7 separate regions of the Homo sapiens genome follow, and regions 2, 3, 4, 5, 6 and 7 are each reported to be linked to region 1. The links are microRNA targets in miRTarBase. Many come from high-throughput screens and were not tested one by one. Region 1 holds a microRNA gene; each other region holds the end of a gene's coding sequence.

What was found. Region 1 holds the annotated microRNA hsa-miR-548ah-5p (AAAAGUGAUUGCAGUGUUUG, at 858-877, shown strand). A microRNA usually pairs through its seed, bases 2 to 8, with sites in the 3' UTR of a target mRNA and lowers its output. Matches are read on the target gene's strand: a 7mer-m8 pairs with bases 2 to 8, a 7mer-A1 pairs with bases 2 to 7 and ends in A, and an 8mer does both.
Region 2: the mRNA of NUS1 is a reported target of hsa-miR-548ah-5p. The part of its 3' UTR that is shown has no 7-base or 8-base seed match.
Region 3: the mRNA of PCBP2 is a reported target of hsa-miR-548ah-5p. Seed matches in the 3' UTR shown: 7mer-A1 at 2,666-2,672.
Region 4: the mRNA of PLS1 is a reported target of hsa-miR-548ah-5p. Seed matches in the 3' UTR shown: 8mer at 1,230-1,237 and 7mer-A1 at 927-933.
Region 5: the mRNA of CLEC12B is a reported target of hsa-miR-548ah-5p. The part of its 3' UTR that is shown has no 7-base or 8-base seed match.
Region 6: miRTarBase lists AKAP11 as a target of hsa-miR-548ah-5p. Seed matches in the 3' UTR shown: 7mer-m8 at 1,644-1,650.
Region 7: the mRNA of HAUS8 is a reported target of hsa-miR-548ah-5p. Seed matches in the 3' UTR shown: 7mer-A1 at 2,781-2,787.

Annotation. Positions count from the first base shown.
Region 1 is chr4:76,574,704-76,577,703 of GRCh38, forward strand. It overlaps MIR548AH (microRNA 548ah), which reads left to right and starts at 848; the gene lies at 848-923. The region is part of intron 2 of SHROOM3 (shroom family member 3); the gene reads left to right.
Region 2 is chr6:117,706,595-117,709,692 of GRCh38, reverse strand. NUS1 (NUS1 dehydrodolichyl diphosphate synthase subunit) reads right to left here. Exons shown (of 5, transcript NM_138459.5): 5 at 1-2,768. The coding sequence ends at 2,678. Among named protein-coding and RNA genes, the nearest start is that of NUS1, 33 kb to the right of the region's middle.
Region 3 is chr12:53,479,147-53,482,237 of GRCh38, reverse strand. It overlaps PCBP2 (poly(rC) binding protein 2), which reads right to left. Exons shown (of 15, transcript NM_031989.5): 15 at 1,076-2,832. The coding sequence ends at 2,796. It overlaps MAP3K12 (mitogen-activated protein kinase kinase kinase 12), which reads left to right. Exons shown (of 14, transcript NM_001193511.2): 13 at 27-297; 14 at 958-2,569. The coding sequence ends at 1,056. Among named protein-coding and RNA genes, the nearest start is that of PCBP2-OT1, 16 kb to the right of the region's middle.
Region 4 is chr3:142,711,439-142,714,536 of GRCh38, reverse strand. It overlaps PLS1 (plastin 1), which reads right to left. Exons shown (of 16, transcript NM_001145319.2): 15 at 2,912-3,036; 16 at 873-2,665. The coding sequence ends at 2,530. Among named protein-coding and RNA genes, the nearest start is that of TRPC1, 11 kb to the left of the region's middle.
Region 5 is chr12:10,018,005-10,021,102 of GRCh38, forward strand. CLEC12B (C-type lectin domain family 12 member B) reads left to right here. Exons shown (of 6, transcript NM_001129998.3): 6 at 327-792. The coding sequence ends at 477. The region is part of intron 2 of LOC102724020 (a long non-coding RNA gene); the gene reads right to left. Among named protein-coding and RNA genes, the nearest start is that of CLEC12B, 8.9 kb to the left of the region's middle.
Region 6 is chr13:42,319,018-42,322,115 of GRCh38, forward strand. It overlaps AKAP11 (A-kinase anchoring protein 11), which reads left to right. Exons shown (of 13, transcript NM_016248.4): 13 at 71-3,098. The coding sequence ends at 211. Among named protein-coding and RNA genes, the nearest start is that of AKAP11, 48 kb to the left of the region's middle.
Region 7 is chr19:17,047,059-17,050,153 of GRCh38, forward strand. It overlaps HAUS8 (HAUS augmin like complex subunit 8), which reads right to left. Exons shown (of 11, transcript NM_033417.2): 11 at 2,671-3,095. The coding sequence ends at 2,815. Among named protein-coding and RNA genes, the nearest start is that of CPAMD8, 22 kb to the left of the region's middle. RefSeq lists an enhancer at 2,761-3,055.

The DNA.
Region 1 (3,000 bases):
GTGAAATAAGCCAGTCACAAAAAGACAAATACTGTAAATGATTCCACTTGTATAAGGTACCCAGGGTAGTCAAATTCATACACAAAAAATGTAGAATGGCAGTTGCCACAGGTTGGGGGAGGGGAGATTAGGGAGTTTTGTTGAGTAGGTACAGAGTTTCAGTTCTGCGAGATGAAAAGAGTTCTGGACATTGGATCTACAAAAATGGGAATATACTTAATGCCACTGAAGTGCACCCTTAAAAAACGGGTATACCAGCAAACCAAATTCAATAGTACACCAACAAGATCATTCATCACAACCAAGCGGGATTTATCTCTGGGATGCAAGGATGGCTCAACATATATAAATCAATCAATACTATATATCTTCTCAATAGAATGAAGAACAAAACCAGATGATCATTTCAAGTGAAGCTGAAAAAGCATTTGATCCTTTCATGATAAACATCCCTTCATGATAAAAGTCCTTCAAAAAACTGGGTATAGGAGAAACATACTTCAACATAATAAAAGCCATAGATGACAGACCCACAACTAGTATCACACTGAATGGGAAAAAAATTGAAAGCCTTTCCTCTAAGATCTGAAGCACAACAAGGCTACCCACTTTCACTACTGGTATTCAACATAGTACTGGAAGTCCTAGCTAGAGCAATTAGACAAGAGAAAGAAAAGGCATCCAAACTGAAAAGGAAGAAAGCAAATTATTTTTATTTGCAGATAAGATGATCTTATATTTGGAAAAACCTAAAGACTCCACCAAAAAAACTAGCAGAATTGATAAACAAATTCAGTCAAGTCACAGGATACAAAATCAACATACCAAAATCAGCAGCATTTCTATTAGGTTGGTGCAAAAGTGATTGCAGTGTTTGCCAATAAAAGTAATGACAAAAACTGCAGTTACTTTTGCACCAGCCCAATATATGCCAACAGTGAACAATCTGAACAAGAAATTTAAAAAGTAATCCCATTTACAATAGCCACAAATAAAATTAAATACCCAGGAATTAACCAAATAAGTGAAAGATCTCTATAATAAAAACTATTAATATAATACACTGATGAAAGGAGTTGAAGAAGATACAAAAAATGGAAAGATATTCCATGTTCACAAATTGCAAGAATCAATATTGTTAAACTTCTCAAAAGAAGACATATAAATGGCAAACAGATATATGAAAATGTGCTCAACATCATTGATTATTAGAGAAACGCAAATCTAAACTACAATGAGATATTATATCATCCCACCCCCGTTAAAATGGCTTATATCCAAAAGACAGGCAGTAACAAATCCTAGTGAGGATGTGGAGAAAAGGGAACCCTCGTACAGTGTTGGTAGGAATGCAAATTAGTACAACCACTACGGAGAACAGTTCAAGGTTTCTCAAAAACCTAAAAAGAAAGCTACCATACGATCCAGCAATCCCACTATGGGGTATATACCCCAAAGAAAGGAAATCAGTACCTCTAAGAGGTATCTGGACTCCTGTGTTTGTTGCAACATTCTTTACAATAGCTAAGATTTGGAAGCAACTTAAGTGTCCATCAACAGATGAATGGATAAAGAAAATGTGGTACTTACACACAATGGAATATTATTCAGCCATTTAAAAAAATGAGATCCTGCCATTTGCAACAACATAGATCAAACTGGAGATCACTATGTTAAGTGAATTGAGCCAGGCACAGAAAGACAAACTTTGCATATTCTCACTTGTTTGTGGGATCTAAAAATCAAAACAATGGAACTCATGGACACAGAGAGTAGAAGGATGGTTACAGAGGCTGGGAAGGGTAGTAGGAGGCTGGTGGGGAGGTAGGGATGGTTAATGCATACAAAAAGGTAGGATGACTAATACCTACTCTTTGATAGCACAACAAGGTGACTATAATCCATAATAATGTAATTGTACATTTAAAAATAACTAAAATCGTGTAGTTGGGTAGTTTGTAACACAAAAGATAATGGCTTGAGGAGATGGATACCCCATTCTTCATGATGTGATTATTATGTGTTGCATGCCTGTATCAAAACATCTCACGTACCCCATAAATGTATACACCTACTTTATAACCACAAAAATTAAAAATTAAAATGTTAAAATAAAAAATGGGTAAGATGGTAAATTTTGTTATAAATATTTTTAATTTTTAAATTAAATTTTTAAAAATAAAAATAAAGGACTTTGGTGATTAAAGCAAAAATAAAAACTGGGTTAAAAACAGTTTAAGCAATAGGTATTGATTTGGTGAATGGTGACATGGCCAACTCAGCTGATTATTCATTGAACGTAATCCTGGAGGTTAGGGTTCAGAACTGAATACTGGAACAAATGCTCCTGGTAAACATGAGTATTTCACCAAACCTTAATTGAATTTCTGATCTACCTAAAGTATAAGAAGGAGCTGGTCAAATAGATCTGACTCTAGCGTTCCAAAAGGGTAATCGGTGTCAGTGTGTCTGTTGAGATAAAAGATAATCTATACTTGAAATTTTCGCATATCACAGGCTAAAAAGCCCTCTGTGTAAATTAATTCCTAGTGGTCTATATCTTTCTACATTAAAAATATGGGCAAATCAAATTTCCCCATCCACCAAAGGGACGAGGTGCTGGGGAAGGTCTGATTGTTTACTCTTTACTGTGTATTGTTGTCAGCAGTACATTGGTTAACTAGGAATTATTCTAAGTCCCTTCATTGCCCTGTTCTTCCAATCATTTGGCATCAGGTGAATGGTTCCAGCCTCCCTAGAGGCAGCAATAAAGGACAGGGACTGGTATTGGAAGATGGTGGGGCTGTAGACCAATACCTCTGCCTCCTGTATTATTTGTCTACCCAATAAAATAATATTCTTTAATATAACAATTCACGTTTATCAATCTTGTTAAAGGATGAATTAAAGAATCTTTAGAAAAATGCTCCAGTCTAGGTAAAATCTGAACTTATTATGCGTAACACAGGTTCAAGACAAGTCCCCTATAACTCCTTCACA
Region 2 (3,098 bases), not on the chromosome of region 1:
TGTCAAAGTCCATACAAAACATCACAAGGATTTGATTGACTCTATGCATGGTACCATCACACAGGAGGAGGGAGCTAATCCAGTAACATACATTCAAAGATTAAATTGCAGATATGCACAGTGTATTTGGCACTGTTCATTAATATTATAACACCTTCCTCTCAAAGACAGGCATTCTTAAGCGTTAGTCACGATATACCAGAATTTGCTATTCACATTAAAACCACCTTTTAAACTTTATAACAGTAACCGATTATTATAGTTTTAAGAAACAAAACACAATGAGAACTGGGAATGGAATTCAAATCCTCCAACTTCTTGCTATGCTCCAAGCTGCCATCCATAAAACAGGTTTAATTCGGTAATTTTTCCATTGTGGGGAGTGTCAACAAGAAACAATTTAAAGACAGTATTTTCCAATACAAATAAAGACACATACTTTTGTTTAAAATTACCAGTTCTTCTTGGGAGTGCAAAGGGAGCCTTGATGATGTACAACTTGTGATGCTTTTGGCAGGAATTACAGAACAACCAATGCCATTCAAGTTGTGGAGATTGTACTAGCAGGTGAACTCATAAAGAGAAGGTTCTGGAATGACTACATCTGAAATCAGAATCCTAGTAGTTTGTAGTTTGCCTCTTCCTAGAACTTCAAGAGACTCAAATCATAGGCTACAGATGTACTTTCAAGTATATACTTATGAATGGAAGGAGAAAATAAAAGCACGAAAATGCAAATATTAAACCTTTACTGGCTTGGGCTATATTCCAGTAGGTAATTTATTTGACTAACTTAACTTTAACAACGATTAAATCCCTTCATTTTAATCAGGTCCATTAAATTTCATTCATTAAAGCTATACATACTCCAGAATGTTTATAAGACATTTATACCTATCATGTTTACAAAAGGCATAAATTCAGTCTTCAGCTGCACTACAAATGCCTCAATATAATATAATCACAGTATAAGGAATCAGAAATTCTCTGGTTAGATATGCTGTAGCTTCACACAAAACTCTCAGTAATAAATTAAAACAAAAAAAAAAAGTCGTACAACGTATAATGGATTATGCAGTGCAAAGTAATGTCACTGGACCAAAATTTAGTTTAATCATTTTTATTTCAAGTGTATTTAAAAAATCATAAATGGGGTTTCATAATCCAAAGTTGAAACATTTATTCTTCATAGCTTCAGAATTTAACAACCAATTGTAGACCATGCTTTCCAAATCCAGTCTTCTTTGCTATTTTTCAAAACTTCTGAGATCTAGTATTAAACTGCTCCATTCTAAATGTATAGTTTTAGATAAGTATTGTACACTTGTTGATAAGGGTTTTCTGAAAGCAGTCTATCAAATATAAAGAATGGTTTCTATCTAAGAATCAGCAGTGAGGGAAGAAATATTAAACACCTATCAAGAAATCAATTATTCATTTTAAAAATAACAGAACCAGTGCTGCTCTCTGTCATAAAAGAGAACATGTAAAATTTATTTTTATAGACTTTGGTAATATTTTATTCCCCCACAGAGGCCTTCAATCCTACTTAAAGATATTTTACACACAGTAACCATCAGGATTTACTGAGTAAAAATCTCAGGTATTAACCATGCCCCTAAAATGTGCTATTCCAAAGAGGAACAGGTTACTTTTGAGGAAAAAAGCTGCCTTGGTAACTTCCCTCAAATGTTTATTTTAAATAAAAATGGTTGATGGAAATATTTTTTAAAAGAACTTTGGGTATAATATGGCATACTGCCCATCAAACAAAAAAGGAAATAAAACTTTCTTTCCATTTATAATAAGTTTTCCACCTTTACTATCAAGATTACAACTTATTGACCTTTTATGCTTGCTTGGTTTTTTTGACTGCCTAATCCAATGTTTAAATTTTTAAGTCTGCATTTCAATGTAGTAGGAGTTATTTTTCAAATAATCTTCAGAACCCAGAATACAGAGCAACTCTCAGAATACCAGAGCAACACTCTCAAGTCATACTTTTGAACCCAGAATACCAGAATACCAGACTTCAGAACCCAGAATACCAGAGCAACACTCTCAAGTCATACTTTTGACTACAATTAAGAGATGAAAATGGACGGATATCTGAAGATAGGTATTCCCTCTGCTCTGAAGGTGAGCAAGATTTTAACATGTGAGCAACACAGAACTCCACTCCTCTGGAGCTCCTTTCAACTCAGAATGCTTCAGTTCAGTAAGTCAATATATTATTCTTAAAAATTAAAGTTTGGTCACTAAGAAGGACTGAACAAAAATTATTCCCCTCCCGCCAAACACAACCAGAACAGTTCTAATCAGGCCCTCTTCTCCCCACAAAAATAGGGAAGTAGCTGGGCTGAAGACTTTAAGTGTGACATTTCAGTTCCTAAAACATCACTGCTATTTGCTCAAAGTTGTAGGTCTATGTATTTCCTTCTCCAATACGTCCCCATTTATAAGTTTATTTCCATACATACAAACGTGCACATGTGTGCACGTGCACACGCACACACACACACTCACTCTCAAGTAAGACACTTTTTTGTGTTTGTTGATAAATTATGAGGATTATGAACTAGGTGTGTACAGGGTTTCATAGGTGCTTTGTAAACATCAGAGTCACTTGGTTCCTTTCCTCCACAAGCCTCAAATCAAATTATGCAACCAATGACCACTACTTTCCCAGACGCTGTTCACAGGCTGCATATTGACGAAGGGCAGAGAAAAAGTCCTCATAACTGATGTTTAGGTGGGAAGGCAAAGAGCTGAAAAGAAAACACGGGGGGAGAAAAGCAATTAGATATACACTGTAATGTAGGGGGGAACCAGAAGATAAGGACCAAAAAGAAGTTAAGAATAGAATACACCAAATTATCCTCCACCAGACAGCACCATGACAGGCACGGAAAATGTCTTAATCATAATATGTAGACTGAAAGGGTGGGGCCCTGACAGAACTGACTGGGAAATAGCAGAGAGCCTCTGAGGCACCGAGGGGTAGTGGCACTCACTGTTTATTGACGAGTGTTCATTGAAGATAGCTATTCCCTCTGCTCTGAGGGTAAATTATAAGCAGAATATGCCAAACAATTCTA
Region 3 (3,091 bases), not on the chromosome of region 1:
CTGTAATCCCCCTCTTCAACATGTAGGTGGCCTCAGAGCCTGAACATGCGCCAGTCACTATCTACCTTCAGCTCAGAGAATCCATCAGATGGGGAGGAAGGCACAGCTAGTGAACCTTCCCCCAGTGGCACACCTGAAGTTGGCAGCACCAACACTGATGAGCGGCCAGATGAGCGGTCTGATGACATGTGCTCCCAGGGCTCAGAAATCCCACTGGACCCACCTCCTTCAGAGGTCATCCCTGGCCCTGAACCCAGCTCCCTGCCCATTCCACACCAGGAACTTCTCAGAGAGCGGGTGAGTGGCACAACAGCAAAAAGCAGATATTGAACAGGGAGAGCTGTAAGCAGATGCCTTGTCTTTTAACAGCTTTTGGGGAGACAGCTGCACAGGCCAGAAAGTACCATAAAGAGCAAATATCCACGTGGTGGAATTTCAGAAGCCTCTTGCACAGAGCATCTATTACGATGCCTGACCAGTAGCTTGCATGTAGCTATAAATTGCAGCCAGGGAATGATTCTGAAAGGAGTCTGACACCTTGGAGAATGGCCTGAGCAACTGAAATCTGGAAGGAATAAAACCAGTAAGCTGGCTGGGCATGGTGACTCACGCCTGGAATCCCAGAACTTTGGGAGGCCGAGGCGGGTGGATCACAAGGTCAGGAGTTCAAGACCAGCCTGACCAATATGGTAAAACCCCATCTCTATTAAAAGTACAAAAATTAGCTGGGCGTGGTGGTGCATGCCTGTAGTCCCAGCTACTCAGAAGGCTGAGGCAGAAGAATTGCTTGAACCTGGGAGGCAGAGGTTGCAGTGAGCCGAGATTGTGCTACTGCACTCCAGCCTGGGCGAGAGTGAGACTCTGTCTTAAAAAACAAATCAGTAAGCCACTGGCTATTAAAATGACCCCAGCAAAGAACCCCAAGGAATCTCACTCCATTTCTACTCTTTCTCACAGGGCCCTCCCAATTCTGAGGACTCAGACTGTGACAGCACTGAATTGGACAACTCCAACAGCGTTGATGCCTTGCGGCCCCCAGCTTCCCTCCCTCCATGAAAGCCACTCGTATTCCTTGTACATAGAGAAATATTTATATAAATTATATATATATACATATATATATATATATGCGCCACATAATCAACAGAAAGATGGGGCTGTCCCAGCCGTAAGTCAGGCTCGAGGGAGACTGATCCCCTGACCAATTCACCTGATAAACTCTAGGGACACTGGCAGCTGTGGAAATGAATGAGGCACAGCCGTAGAGCTGTGGCTAAGGGCAAGCCCCTTCCTGCCCCACCCCATTCCTTATATTCAGCAAGCAACAAGGCAATAGAAAAGCCAGGGTTGTCTTTATATTCTTTATCCCCAAATAATAGGGGGTGGGGGGAGGGGCGGTGGGAGGGGCAGGAGAGAAAACCACTTAGACTGCACTTTTCTGTTCCGTTTACTCTGTTTACACATTTTGCACTTGGGAGGAGGGAGGCTAAGGCTGGGTCCTCCCCTCTGAGGTTTCTCAGGTGGCAATGTAACTCATTTTTTTGTCCCACCATTTATCTTCTCTGCCCAAGCCCTGTCTTAAGGCCCAGGGGGAGGTTAGGAGACTGATAGCATGTGATGGCTCAGGCTGAAGAACCGGGGTGCTGTTTAAGTCCCTGCTTTTATCCTGGTGCCTGATTGGGGTGGGGACTGTCCTACTGTAACCCCTGTGAAAAACCTTGAAATATAACACTCCATGCAGGCCCAGCTGTTGAGGGTTTTCTTGATGAATGAATGGGGTACCATACATGGTTAAGATAAAGCCTTGGGCTCCGGACTTTATCTGAGGTGTCTGGAGAAGTTCTCCTGCCCCTCCACTTTTTTGCATCTACTCTCACTAAATGAGTATAATGTCAAGCCCCAACTTTCTAAAATTATAGGAATAAATGGTAGCAGATACATCCTTCTAACTTGTTATGGAGGACTATAAATGAAGTTACTAAAAACAATAGACTGAAATTTTTAGTTTAAAATATGCAAGCCTGAACAAGGGGACCAACATTCCCAAGAAACTGGAACCCAGTCAGACATATGATCAACTGCTTAATGTGTATGCCATGTATGTCATGTGTCATTCCTTTCCCCCACCCCCTCCCTAGTGGAAGTGCTTGCCTACTCCCCTAGGACAGGTAAGTCCTCGGAAAGTCTAATCCTCAATCTTTTGGGCACAAGTTTTATAAGGGCCAACCAAGCATGGAGTCAGGGAAAAATAGGATCGAGGGCCACAAAAAAAGATGGAAGTGGTAAAATAGAAGAAAACATCTTAACCGGAATAAAGGCTTCCATTCAAAACCCAAGAAGGGTCCTTTGAGGGATAAAAGGTACAAAAATAACAGCAAGACAAGAGGAATAAAACCCACATGAATCACTGTGGCATCCAGTTTCTATTCACAAAGAAAAAGCTCCAGTCCATCTTTTAATTTTTTTGAAAAATTCCTGACATTACAGAACTAAACTGAAATGTATTAATATTCCACTCTTACATTTCCATGACAAACAGAAAAATTCATGAGCCAAAAAAAAAAAACCAGGGAGAAGCTTATAAAACTAAATATGGATCTCAGCATCAACAGCTGAACAGAGAAAGGAATTAAAACGCTTTAATTAAAAAATCACGAGTGGATGATAAAGTGTGTAGAAACTGAAAATTTACAAACTATTTAAAACCTGGAATCGCTGACTGTTCAGAAACTACACAGATGGATCATGGGTGGTGGTGAACAGCAGAAAGGGATTATGGATGAATCTGCATTGTTCTAGCTGCTCCCCATGCCACCCGTCTCCGAGGAAAGCCTGTAACACAGAAACAAGAACTCAGTTAGTTTCCCCAGTGCTCAGCTGCACCTCATCTCTACCTGGTTCATGAAATGTGAAGAGTAAATAACCAGTGCTGGAGTACCAAGGGAGACATTTTAAGGTTTCTTAAATTTACCAGTACCATGATCCTTTAATCCTTGCAATTCAAGCATGTGGAGGTCTATTACCTCAGAACCAAGGGAAACAGCCCTTGTTATCCAATGTCCCTCAAACTATGTTCTCTTTTAGTTCCACC
Region 4 (3,098 bases), not on the chromosome of region 1:
TGGGGTATTTTAACATAATCTATGCAGCCTATCATCAGTTTTTTCTACACAGGTGATACAGAGACCAGTGGCAGAGTTATGATGAACAGTAGCATCCAAGATTCAGAAGCAGCATATTACTTCAAGCAGCTTACCCAAACCACATATACAAAAGAGCAGTCATGACTCCAGTCAGAGAAGAAAAAAAAAAATCCAGATTTAGATCTAGTCCTACAATACCCTAGACTCCATCTCCATCTCCAGACTCTGCCTCTCCCTCAGTACTCTCAGGTCATGTTCACCTGTTTGTCTTCTAGGATGCCTACAGGACTGCCTGCTTCAGGTTCTTTACATTTGTTCTCTCTGCTGAACACTTATAGCACAAATATCCTTAGAGAGACCTTCCCTGACCACCCAAATACAAATAATCTCCACTCCATTTCCCAAGTCAGTCTCTATCACATTACCTTATGTTATTTCTTCTACTGCATTATCACTGTCTAAAATTCCTATTTACGAATTGTCTCTCTACTAGGATATCATACATGGATGTGATACATGAGGTCAGGAGACTTCATCTGTATTTTTTTCAGATGAATCCCCAGTGTCTAGCATAGTATCTGGATCATAATAAATGATAAATTTGTGAATGGATTGATTCACCTGAATTATTTCAGCACAAACTAAATTGTAGTAATCACACAGTTGGTTTTTAATAATTCTTCATATTTAAGAACAAAAGAACTACCCTCATCTTCAAAGAAATCAGACACAATTTTTTTTTTGTTTTACTAACTCATTTAGGAATTCTTTTCTTTTCTGGAAAATAAGCTTATGCTAGACTAATTTTCAAGGCTGAATATTTTTCTTCAAATGAAATAAATATAAACACATTTCTATATACACAGCATTTTTATTAAATATACTCTGTGAGAAAAAGAACACCCTAAAGTGCCAGATTTCATGTAAATCCAATAACTTAGTAAATACAATGGTGAAAAAAAATCAGAGGGAAACATAATTTAAATAATCTTATAAAAGAGCAAGAACATATCTTAATCTTAAGAAAACAATCATCAAAATATAAAAGGGAAAGAAATCTCTTTTGTAGAAGAATATATTTCAAATTCCACCTGTTGATCATTTCATTTAAAAAATTCTATTCTAAACACATGGGCAGTCTCTCTTACCAATATATATATTTAAATCAATGGTAGAAAGGGAATTTAGACTACTCATTCACACTGAGATAAAGTGACATTTTTGTTGCACAACAGTATTGCTCACTGGCACTAACAGTGGAAGATGGAGAAAGTAGATTTCTGGATTCAATTGTTAGCAGCAGAAATGGACTAATGCTAAAAATTTAGAAAAAAATAGTCCAAGCTGTAGCGATTTCCAAGTAATACAAACATTAACCAAACATTGCCAATTTGTAACGGGCTGTGAAAAACATATGAAAATACTCTACATTGAATACTAGCTTTATGTTACTTTCTATTAAAGATATTCAGTGGGCATATTCTAAATTATATAGGGCTTCTATAGAGACCTAAACTAGCAAGTATAATATGAAGCTAACAGGACAGTGTCAGCATATCTTGGGATGTTCTAGCCAATGTTTGGCTACAAGTATTTGGAAGGGGTCAAATAACTATATGCACATTCAAAATGAATACTTATAAAAAGAAATCTTAATGTATCAGATATCCACAGACTGAAAAGTGTTACACATGTTGTGGGGGGAAAATACTGATGGTTGGCTGAATGACCAATTAAACATACCACTTATGAAAAGCTGGGTGATTCAGGTGCAAAAAAATATATATGCACACATATCTCTCTAATAACATCCTACCAACATATATATGTTGCATGACATAGTTAAAGCTGTGTTACCAAACTAGGATGTGTAAAGTATCAATGTAGTTAAAATTAAATTTTAAGTAAAAAGCTGCTGCTACTTAAACAAGAGAGTGAACTTTGGGGTTTATTCAAGAATTAGTTCTCATATATAAAAAAGTTTGATATTAATAAACAATTCTGGTCACCATAAGGTTTTAGACAGTATAGAAACTTACAGAAAAGTGTTTTTGGACCACTTTAAATAGTTGGAGGAAGCAAATAAAAGGATTAAACTGGATTATGAGTATGAATGCATTTATGATCAAAATTAACACACCAAAAAAATCAAACCACATTTCACAGCAGAACCTGCAAAAACGTTTGTATTCATCTTTTTTGAACCATAAAAAAGAATGATTTAGTCTTGTCTAATACGACTTTTAAGCAACAAAAATAATTTAATCATGAAGTATCAGCTTGATTATGAATATATTCTATTATCTGTATCAGTTGGTAAATTAACTGTGTTACCCAAAAAGGCTGACCAGCTCTAACTAGTATGAACAGGATATTGAATTCATTAATGAATATATAACTATTTTGAGCATACAAATAATCTCTGGTTTTACACCCACTACATTTCAGAATCCTGTAAACTGTGAGGCATACAATATGTTTAATGTGGCAGAAAATCATATGAAATGATTATTTTATTCTGTTCAGTCCTTTTCCCATTAAGCATGCAAACACCGTCATAACCATCTTTGGTTTCACTTCTACGAGGTCATCAGGTAATGCATATATCCGGGCACCGATCTTTCGAGCAACTGAAATGGCGTATCTTGAAGAGACAAGAAAAATATCTTGGTGTTATCCACTGTGTTTTCACTTAACATATTTTAACAAAAGAGTGAAATATTTTGACAAGATTAGTTTTACGAAAAGGTTAAGTTTGTGAGTCTTAAATCTAAGACTCACATATAAGTTATATTTAAAAATATGAATTTTAAGGGCATAGTAACTTTTCCTATAAGGATTTTAGAGAATTAAAGGGCCATGTATTGTAATATAAACCATAAAGGCTTACTTAGCATTGTTCAGCTTGTCCTCATCAGATAAGTTTTCTCTCCTGATCATTTCTTGACGAACTGCATTTGGTGCAATGGCATCTATTAAATCTAGGACAGGTAAACTTGTGCTTATAGATTTATCCTAGAAAATAAAGCATAGATGAACATTCATAAACATCTGACCTTTAATTTTCATTATTTTCA
Region 5 (3,098 bases), not on the chromosome of region 1:
CTTCTAATATAAGCTGAACTGATTAGATTTCATTAATGGAATTACATATTTATGAAGGAAATACAAATTCTCAGTCCAGGATTTAAGTATTTCTCTTAAAGAATTCTACCTGGGATTATGATTAACTTAAAATAAAGAACCCAGATGTGCCAGCTCTGGGCAGATTTTGTGCCAGCTTTAGGCAGCTTCAGATTTTGAAGCTTTGTGGAGGCAGAAGTCTCTCCATATTCAGATACATGACATTGGCTGTAAGAGCAACTGAGGGCACTAAATAGTGATCACGTTTCAAATACAGAATTTATAATTAATTTTAAATTAATTTTCAGATTTAGTACTAAAGAACTTGACCAGATCAATGGATCCAAAGGATGTGCTTATTTTCAAAAAGGAAATATTTATATTTCTCGCTGTAGTGCTGAAATTTTTTGGATTTGCGAGAAGACAGCTGCCCCAGTGAAGACTGAGGATTTGGATTAGTATGCTTCTTCCAAATTCTCCAAGAAGTAAGAGACTTGTGAGTAAGCTCATATGAGGAAAGAGGAAACTACGGTACCAGAGCCAAACCAGCTTTTAAAATGACTGTGTATTTACATTATCAGACAAATGAACTTGTTTAACAGAACATTCTCCAGTTCCTTGTCTGACGTCTTCTGATTTGATGTTATTATTCGGTCTTAAAATTATACCTGGGGACAAAGGGGAATAGCCATACTATGGCCCTATGATTGTCTCAGAATCATTTCACTGAATTTCTTTGCTTTCTCAAATAAAGACTCCTTTCTTTCATTATTATTATACTGTCACGTGTGCACTAGGGTGATATTTAAATATTTAAAAACTAGGGTGATATTTAAATATTTAAAAACACAGGCCACAGCACTAGAACAAGGTCCAAGAGATGCCTGTTGTGATAGTTGCTGGGTCATGTGGAGGTCTGGGGGATCCCAGGCTAAGGGTCCTGGTAGCTGGGGCTGCAGCACTGTATCAACTGATTTGGAAATATTTTATTTTAGCAAATGTTTGTACCACTGTGAACCAGCTAAGTGTCGCCCTGCACTTGCAAAATAGCTTTTCTTCTCCAACAACCCTATGAAAATAAGCGTTCTTATTAATCTTTAAAATTTAGATAATTTATAATCTAGGCATAATAATTTAATATTTACTTTTTTTTGAGACACTGTCTCACTCTGTTGCCTAGGCTGTAGTATTGTGATGTGATTGGCTCACTGCAGCCTCAATCTCCTGGGCTCAATCGATCCCTCCCACCTCAGCCTCCCGAATACCTGGGACCACAGGCATGCAACACCATGCTCAGCTAATTTTTGTATTTTTTTGTAGAGACGAGGTTTCACCATGTTGCCCAGGCTGGTCTCAAACACCTAGGCTCAAGCTATCTGCCAGCCTCAGCCTCCCAAAATCCTGGGATTACAGGTGTGAGCCACTGCCCCTGGCCAATATTTATGTGTTTGTCATTTATTTAAATTAGTAATATTGATGTTATTGATTTTGTAATCTGGGTATTATTATAAAAATATATTCTCTTACAATTGATATTTTGTTTCCCTCAGAAAAGTCCTAATAAACTGTTTGAAGACATCAAAATAGAAGAACCATTATCTTTAATTATTTAGACCTTTCCTGAATCACAGTTTGTCAGTGTTCCTGCACACTAGATGCTAAATATTGTAAATCTAGGGTTCAAGATTTTTCCTGGAACAAAATTGCTGATTTCAGAGTACTGGTAAAGGATGTAGTTTTCCATTTATCTTCACATAGTTCCATAGCTATATATAGGAAGAAAATAATGATAAATTAGCCTTTGATACTGATTTTGCTAGATCAGAAATCTAGAATTTACTGGAAAATTGATATAATCTAAATTCAAAGTTAGATGCATTTCAATACTTTGACAGTCCTTTGAAACTACCACTTCATACATACCATCTAGTAGCTTCTTATTCTCTAAATATTTAAAATTATCAACTAATCAATGTTTTATATAGGCACCAACAGAAACTCTAGAACAAAGGAAAAATGTCAAGTGTGAAAATTTAGTAAAAATTACAAACAATATATTTAAGCACAACTTTTTAAATACAGACAATTATCATAGTTCAAGTAAACAGTGTTTCTTAGTTCTTATACGGGATTCAAACATAAGTTATATACACATGGATTAAAGAAGAAACTTGATTCTTCCATTTCTCTTTAGCAGTTTGCCCCTGGCATTCTCACAAAGATAAAATTATTTCTTAAAGGTCAAAATCTGTGCCTCTGACTCTCACACATTTGGGTTTCGTTTTATTCCCATGAGAAAAATAAGTTCTTTCATTCCTCTATTTCTAATTAAAAAAATCTACTTTTAATAATTAAAATACCTTAGTTGGTTATTTTGTTCCTATTAAGAAGTTACAGGTTTTTTTTTCTGGTATCTTGTATATTTTAATTCTCATTTCATGTAAACTCTTTTATACTCATTAAAAGAAAATTTCTGTTTCTGACCTTACAGTGCTCTGGATCTTGATCAGCTCCTATTACTAAGAGCTCCCTCCCTGCTGCCCTGCTATCATCATATTATCCCTGACGACCTCTACAGTAGATGCATAAATCCAGAGTTCTCAAGATTCACTAGCCCTTTGTGTCAGAATACTTCATCCTTTGATTCTGATAACTTAGCTTATGAGACAGGACTTGATTCCAGAAATTTTCATCTCTTTCTTTTTCTTTCTTTCTTCCTCTCCTACTGCCCCTACACCCTCTCCAGTCAAAATCCCTGAGATATTTTATTTATATATACAGGTATATACAAATGGTATATTTTTAGGGGAAAGACCATTGATATGGTTTGGATCTGTGTCCTTACCAAATCACATGTCAAGATGTAATCCCCAATGCTGGTTGTGGGGCCTGGTGGGAGGTGATTGGGTTATGGGAGCAGATTTCTCATGAATGACTTAGCACCATCTTCTTGGTGCTGTTCTCATGATAGCGAGTTCTCGCAAGATCCGGTTGTTTAAAAGTGTGTAGCATCCCCACCAACCCCACCCCACACCCTCTCTCCTGCTCCTGCTCCAGCCGTGTGAAGTACCCACCCCTCC
Region 6 (3,098 bases), not on the chromosome of region 1:
TGAAAATAAAAATAAAAGCTTTGTTATAAAATTGTTTTTGGTTAATGTTTGACACATCTTTCTTTCTTAGCTTTCAAAACAATTACAAGAGAAAGGATGGAAAGTGGGAGACCTCCTGCAGGCTGTGCTTCAATACTATGAAGTGATGGAAAAAGCTTCCAGTGAGGAGAGATGCAAGTCGCTGTTTGATTGGCTCTTGGAAAATGCATAGAGCAAACCCCAAACCAGTATATTTTAGTATTTGTTTGGGGAGGGGAACAAGCCAATAAAGATGTTTAGGATAAAATTTGAATAGTGAATATTAACATCGTAAGTCAGTTGGGAGGCAAGTAAATATAGCTTTCTGAGCGCTTTGTGTTATCACTCGGTGTATATAGTTCATACTTTTGTAATCTGTCAAAATACTACCTTCATTTATTCTTCTATACACATGTGTAGTGTGTCAAGACCCTAAGAACATGTATTTGAAGGAAGGTCTAACCAGGGGGTTTTCAGGGGCATTGTCTGACCACATTCTTTTTGTATCCAAATAGTGCTGCTAGAAACTGCACTGAAGTGGCTGAGGATAGGTTCCAGTGATAGAGTTATAATTTTGCTCCTTTGCAAACAAATGGTATCTAATTAATAACTAGTCTGACATCAGAAAATAAAATTGAGGCTGATTTTTAAAAATTTCTAGTAGATTTTTGGCCTTTCCTGTTTTTAAAAATCAGTTTCATTTTCATATTTCATAGATCAGCTATTGGTAGCTTTTTGATTTCCCCAAACTATTTAATTTCTTAGCAGAAACATTAGTATTTTAGGTTTCTATAAACACTATAAGTGATAGTTTCCCCCATCCTTTCATTGACATTATTTGCCAATGCTGCCAGTCATTCTGGCATGAAAGGTGTGTGTGTGTGTGTGTGTGTGTGTGTGTGTGTGTGTGTGTGTAAGGGAGTACTTTAACCTTGCCAGTTTGTTCCCTCTTTTATTTTACTGTTTTCTTTTTAGAAACCCACTGTTAAAATTTAAAAAGGTGCTTTAAAATAAAACGCCTATAAAGATTGTGCAGTAAGAATTTTTATTGACAATAATTAAAATTTTTTTTGACAATTTTGGGTTCCCAACTTATCTTACAAGTGAAAACTTAAATTGTAAAACATGTTGAAATTTTAAAAATTAATGTTAATATGGAAATGCATTTAGAGAAGCCCAGTAGTTTTTATTGTTGGATTTTTGAAAAAACCTCTACCAAGAATGTGGTGTTTTTTTTGTTTGTTTGTTTGTTTGTTTTAGAAAAATTGGGATTTCCCCCCACCCCGCCCCACCCAGATAAACTATATCTACACTGTCTCGTCAAGTTCTCTGACACGATCTTTCTGGGCTCTACATTTCCTACTAGTTTGTGTCCAGAAACTGCAAGTTGACATGAATAGAGGACAAAGGTTGTGTCTTGCTTTTGTCTCTCTCTTCCCTCCCTGCAACTCTCTCTCCCCTCCTCCCACTCTCTTCCCCCTCCCCCCTCCTCCCACTGTCTCTCACCTCCCCCACCCCCCACTCTCTCTCATCTCTCGCTGTGTCCTGTGTATGTGTGGGTGTGTGTGTATTTGGGTGTGTAAATGTTGGTTCTTCCACTACTGGATTTTGTAATCTAGGATAAATCACTTTTTTTGGGGACTTTGATTTTGCTCCATTACGTTTTCATTTTTTCTGAGCACTGACTGTTCTGAAAGCTGCACAAAACGTAGAAAGAAGACATAGCGCCTGCCAGGGAATAGGAAATGAGGGCACTTACACATTAATGTGAATTAGTAATTGTGGTATAGAAATGTTTTATAGTGAAAGATTCAAATTTGCTTTTCAAGAAAAATGCCAAAAGCTATTTAAATAATTCGAGGTTACATCGTAGGTTTTGATTTTTCTCAATTTAAGATACAGAAATACAGCAAGCCTTAATATAAAGTTTCCTAAAGTTTCTTCAAGTATTTTTTAAGGTGGAGAAATGCAGGAATTGTATAACCAGAATTGTTCCTGCCTTTAGCTTTTCAGAACTTGAGATGTGGCAGCACTGGACTGGGTTTTTTTAAATGTTAGGACTAGGAATGTTTGCTCTTGTTAATTATGAATTAATTGATTATTAAGTTTAGAATGCATTTTTACAAGTATCTAACTATCAAATTGTGTTTAGTAACTTGAGTGTATGCACAAGTTTGATCAACAGCAAAATAGAGTTCTGAATTTCTTTTAAAGTGATGATATATTATTTTGTGAAACTTTGTGTTTGAAAATGTTTATTTCTGTTTATGGTGTAATCATTCTGAGGTGAGGCTTTTCTTATTTCCTTTGCATTTTGCTAGAGCTGTGCTGAGTTCAGCATTTGCTTATTTAACCACTACATAATGACAGACCAGTTATTAGGTATTAGCATGTGTGGTAATAATAATAGTGGAACTTCACACTTACATCAATTCAGTGCAGGGGCATAGAATAAAATATTAAATATTGGCAGATGTATGAAAAGAAGTGTGAGTTAAAAATATTGAATATTGGCAGGTGTGAAAACAAGTGTCAAAATTCCTCATATAGAGAAAATAATTTTGAGTTTAGAGTATTATCTTTTAATTAAGTGTAGTCTAAACTTAACTTTCTGTAAAGGCACTTTGTGGTTTTTCCAAAGATGTTCTAGATCTATTTGGTTGCTCTATAGTCAAACAGCTCTTTTGAAGACAACTGTCTTATTTTATTACAAATTGGCTTGACATATTTATACTGTAACATTGTAATATTGCTGTGCTGTACATTTTGGCCCTTACGAAATACGTCTTTTTCAGAACTGTTAAAGTTTTGATGTACATCGAGCTGAATTCTGTTTTTACCAGTTTCAAAACCTTCAAGTGATATGTGGAAAAAAGTGAATGAGACCTCTGATAGGGGGTTTTCAGAACCTTGTTCACACCAAAATGTGACAGTTCTTTCATGTTTTCCTAAACCAAGTTAAAATTACATGTATATTTTGGTGTTAAGGTTGATTTTTAAGATACTTCTGATTTGTACAAAAGGAATGTTTCCTTTATAAATCACAGAAGAAAATGACAATATCTGTTGGATATTTGATA
Region 7 (3,095 bases), not on the chromosome of region 1:
AGTCCCAGCTACTCGGGAGGCTGAGGCAGGAGAATTGCTCGAACCCGGGAGGTGGAGGTTGCAGTGAGCTGAGATCACACCATCATACCACTGCACTCCAGCCTGGGTGACAGAGTGAGACTCCATCTCAAAAACAAACAAACTGGGTCTCACTCTGTCGCCCAGACTGGAGCGCAGTGGTGCAAACGTGGCTCACTGCAGCCTCGACTTCCTGGGCTCAAGCGATCCTCTCACCTTAGCTTCCCAAAGTGCTGGGATTACAGGTGAGAGCCACTGTGCCCAGCCTTATCCTTCCTTTCTATATTGCCCGTGGTTGCTTTTGTGCACCAAGGTCAATCCAAAAAATAATTGAGTCAGTGAGACACAGACCATCTGGCTTTACTTCCTTGTAGTCACAACTCTGGGGATTCTAAGTCTGACCATCCTAGCCCCATGGCCAGGGATGTCAGGAGATGATGGTGGTCATTTTGAGCAGTAGGTTCCCTTGCAAGCCATGGGAGGACACAGGCTGTGTCCAGGACACATCCCCTGGAGGCGTGGGTGTGGAGACCATGAGCCGAATTCATTCATTATCTAAAATCAAACTCAATTCTCATGAAGTAGGGACGTCAGCCTTACAGAGTCGGGCATGTGCCGCCCATTTCCACCTGTGGGTGGAATCCACCACTCCTGTTGACTCTCAGCGGTGCCCGGCTTAGATGATAGATTCTAGGGTCTCTGCTGTTGGAGGTCAAGACTGTGATGTAATGAAGTATTTTTTTCAATGTGTGTCCTGTGGCAGTGCCCAATTCAGAAAACATAGAGCAGGATTTTAGTTCCAAATGAGTCAAGTTTTATATGTTAAGACATCGCTTGTTAATCTTGCACATAACATCTATCATATTCATATGCTGCCTAGTCTTGGGTTTTTGTTTTTTTTTAAATCTGAGTCTCACTCCGTCACCCAGGCTGGAGTGGCAGTGGTGTGATCTTGGCTCACTACAATCTCTGCTTCCTGTGATCAAGTGATTCTCCTGCCTCAGCCTCCAGAGTAGCTGGCACTACAGGCACGTGTCACCACGCCCAGCTAATTTTTCTATTTTTAGTAGACAGAGGGTTTCACCATGTTGGTCAGGCTGTTCTCAAACTCCAAACCTCAAATGATCTGCCCGCCTTGGCCTCTCAAAGTGCTGGGATTACAGGCATGAGCCACCGTGCCTGGCCCAAAGACATCCTCTTTTATCTGCTCATGTGGATTTAATGATATCCCCTTGGGGTATAATAAAAACTTCTTTGGTCTTTGTCCACAGTTCCTGGCACGTAACTCCTAAATCCCTAGAATGGACATTCATTCATAGGATGAACGAAGGTGTTAAGATGAGACAGCACTATGGGCCAGGCACGGTGGCTCGCAACACTTTAGGAGGCTGAGGTAGGCAGGTCAGTTGAGGCCAGGAGTTGGAAAGCAGCCTGGCCAATATGGTGAAACCCCATCTCTCCTAAAAATACAAAAATTAGTTGGGTGCAGTGGTGCACACCTGTAGTCCCAGCTACTTGGGAGGCTGAGGCAGGAGAATTGCTCGAACCCAGGAGGCAGCAGAGGTTGCGGTGAGCCGAGATCATGTCACTGCACTCCAGGCTGGGCGACAGAGCAAGATTCTGTCTCAAAATTAAAAAAAAAAAAACAAACAGCACTATGGAAGCGTTGGCTGAACTGAAGCAACTGCGTGGGGTCCCTCAATATTAAAGGGCTCCAGACAAGTCTGCTGTATTTGCCCCAGTTTGCAGAAATTTTAAAAGCTGAAGGCAGACACTACAACATGAAACCCAACCTGGACTCACTGGGGACAACCAGGCAGATTCGTCGCACTCCAGCCCAGAAGACAGAGCAAGCCCTGTCTAAAACCAAACAAAGACAAACCAGGCAACAAAACCCACACCTCCAGCAATACGAATTGGAAATGTGACCTGGGGATCAGTAAGTTCCCAAAGCCCACACCGCGTGGGGTGGAAGCTGGAGAGCTGGTTGGAGGAAAATGTTCTGGGCCAAAGTCCCAGTGGAGCACAGATGGGGTTTATGGCAAGAGCCTGAGCATCTCCCAGTGACAACTACCGAGACTGGAACTGAAATATGTCCCCTCCAGTCGAGGTGCGGGATGCCGGGACCCAGTGGTGGACGTCCTGGAGGGCGGGACCCAGGGTTCCCTGGTGGAGGTGTGGAAGGACGAGACCCTGCAGTCTCTCAAGCTGCCAGCGAGATGGGGACCCAGAGACCTCCCGAAGCTGCCAGCAAGGCAGGGACCCAGCAGTTTCTCAAGGCTGCCTGGGACCCAGTTGCCAGATTACGAAGGCATCTCAGGCCCTGGAGCCAGAGCCAGTCGGGTTAAAGTGGAAGCTCCCTACTTCAGCCCCAGAAGCTGGGGCCAGGGGAAGGATGATGTGGATTGTTCTTGTTTTACCCCTTCTGTTGAATGTTTACAGACACAAACTTGAGTTCCAATAAAGAATTGCATTTCCCTAAAAAAGTAAATAAAGTATGTCCACTCGAGGGACAATTCTTAACTTGCTGTCCCAAAACCACCCTTGTGACTGAAGGACATGAAATCATCTTGAAAGTGGGATACTGGGCATGTCGTGGAGGCCCGGAATTTCAGGACCAGTCATCCAGAAGAACTTGAGAAAACACAGGTCTTCCAACTGGCCCCTTCATAGAAAATGGAGGCTTCAATTGCAAAACAGGTTTACTTTTTTATCAAACAAGATTATCACATAAAAAATAGCTACAGTGCTACGGTAGTATATAAAGTGCTCAAGTATCCTGAATGTAACCATGAGTCATGACAAGTCCCTCCCTGAACGAGAGAGAGAGGGCGGGACTTCTGCCTGGCTGCTTGAAGAAAAATCTTCGCTTGGGCTGATGAACGTGGCCTGAGCGGGGGCTGACGAGGCACCCGGGTTGTCGTCCTCAGACAGGGGCGTGTTCTTGGGTGCTCCCCCAGATTCTCTGCAGGCACTGTCTTGATTGAAATACCACCGGCTGGGGGGCGCCATGCCCTGGGTCTCTTCCCAGACTTCCTGGTTTGCCAAGGCTGCCTCTTTGCTTGCCTCTGCGGAGA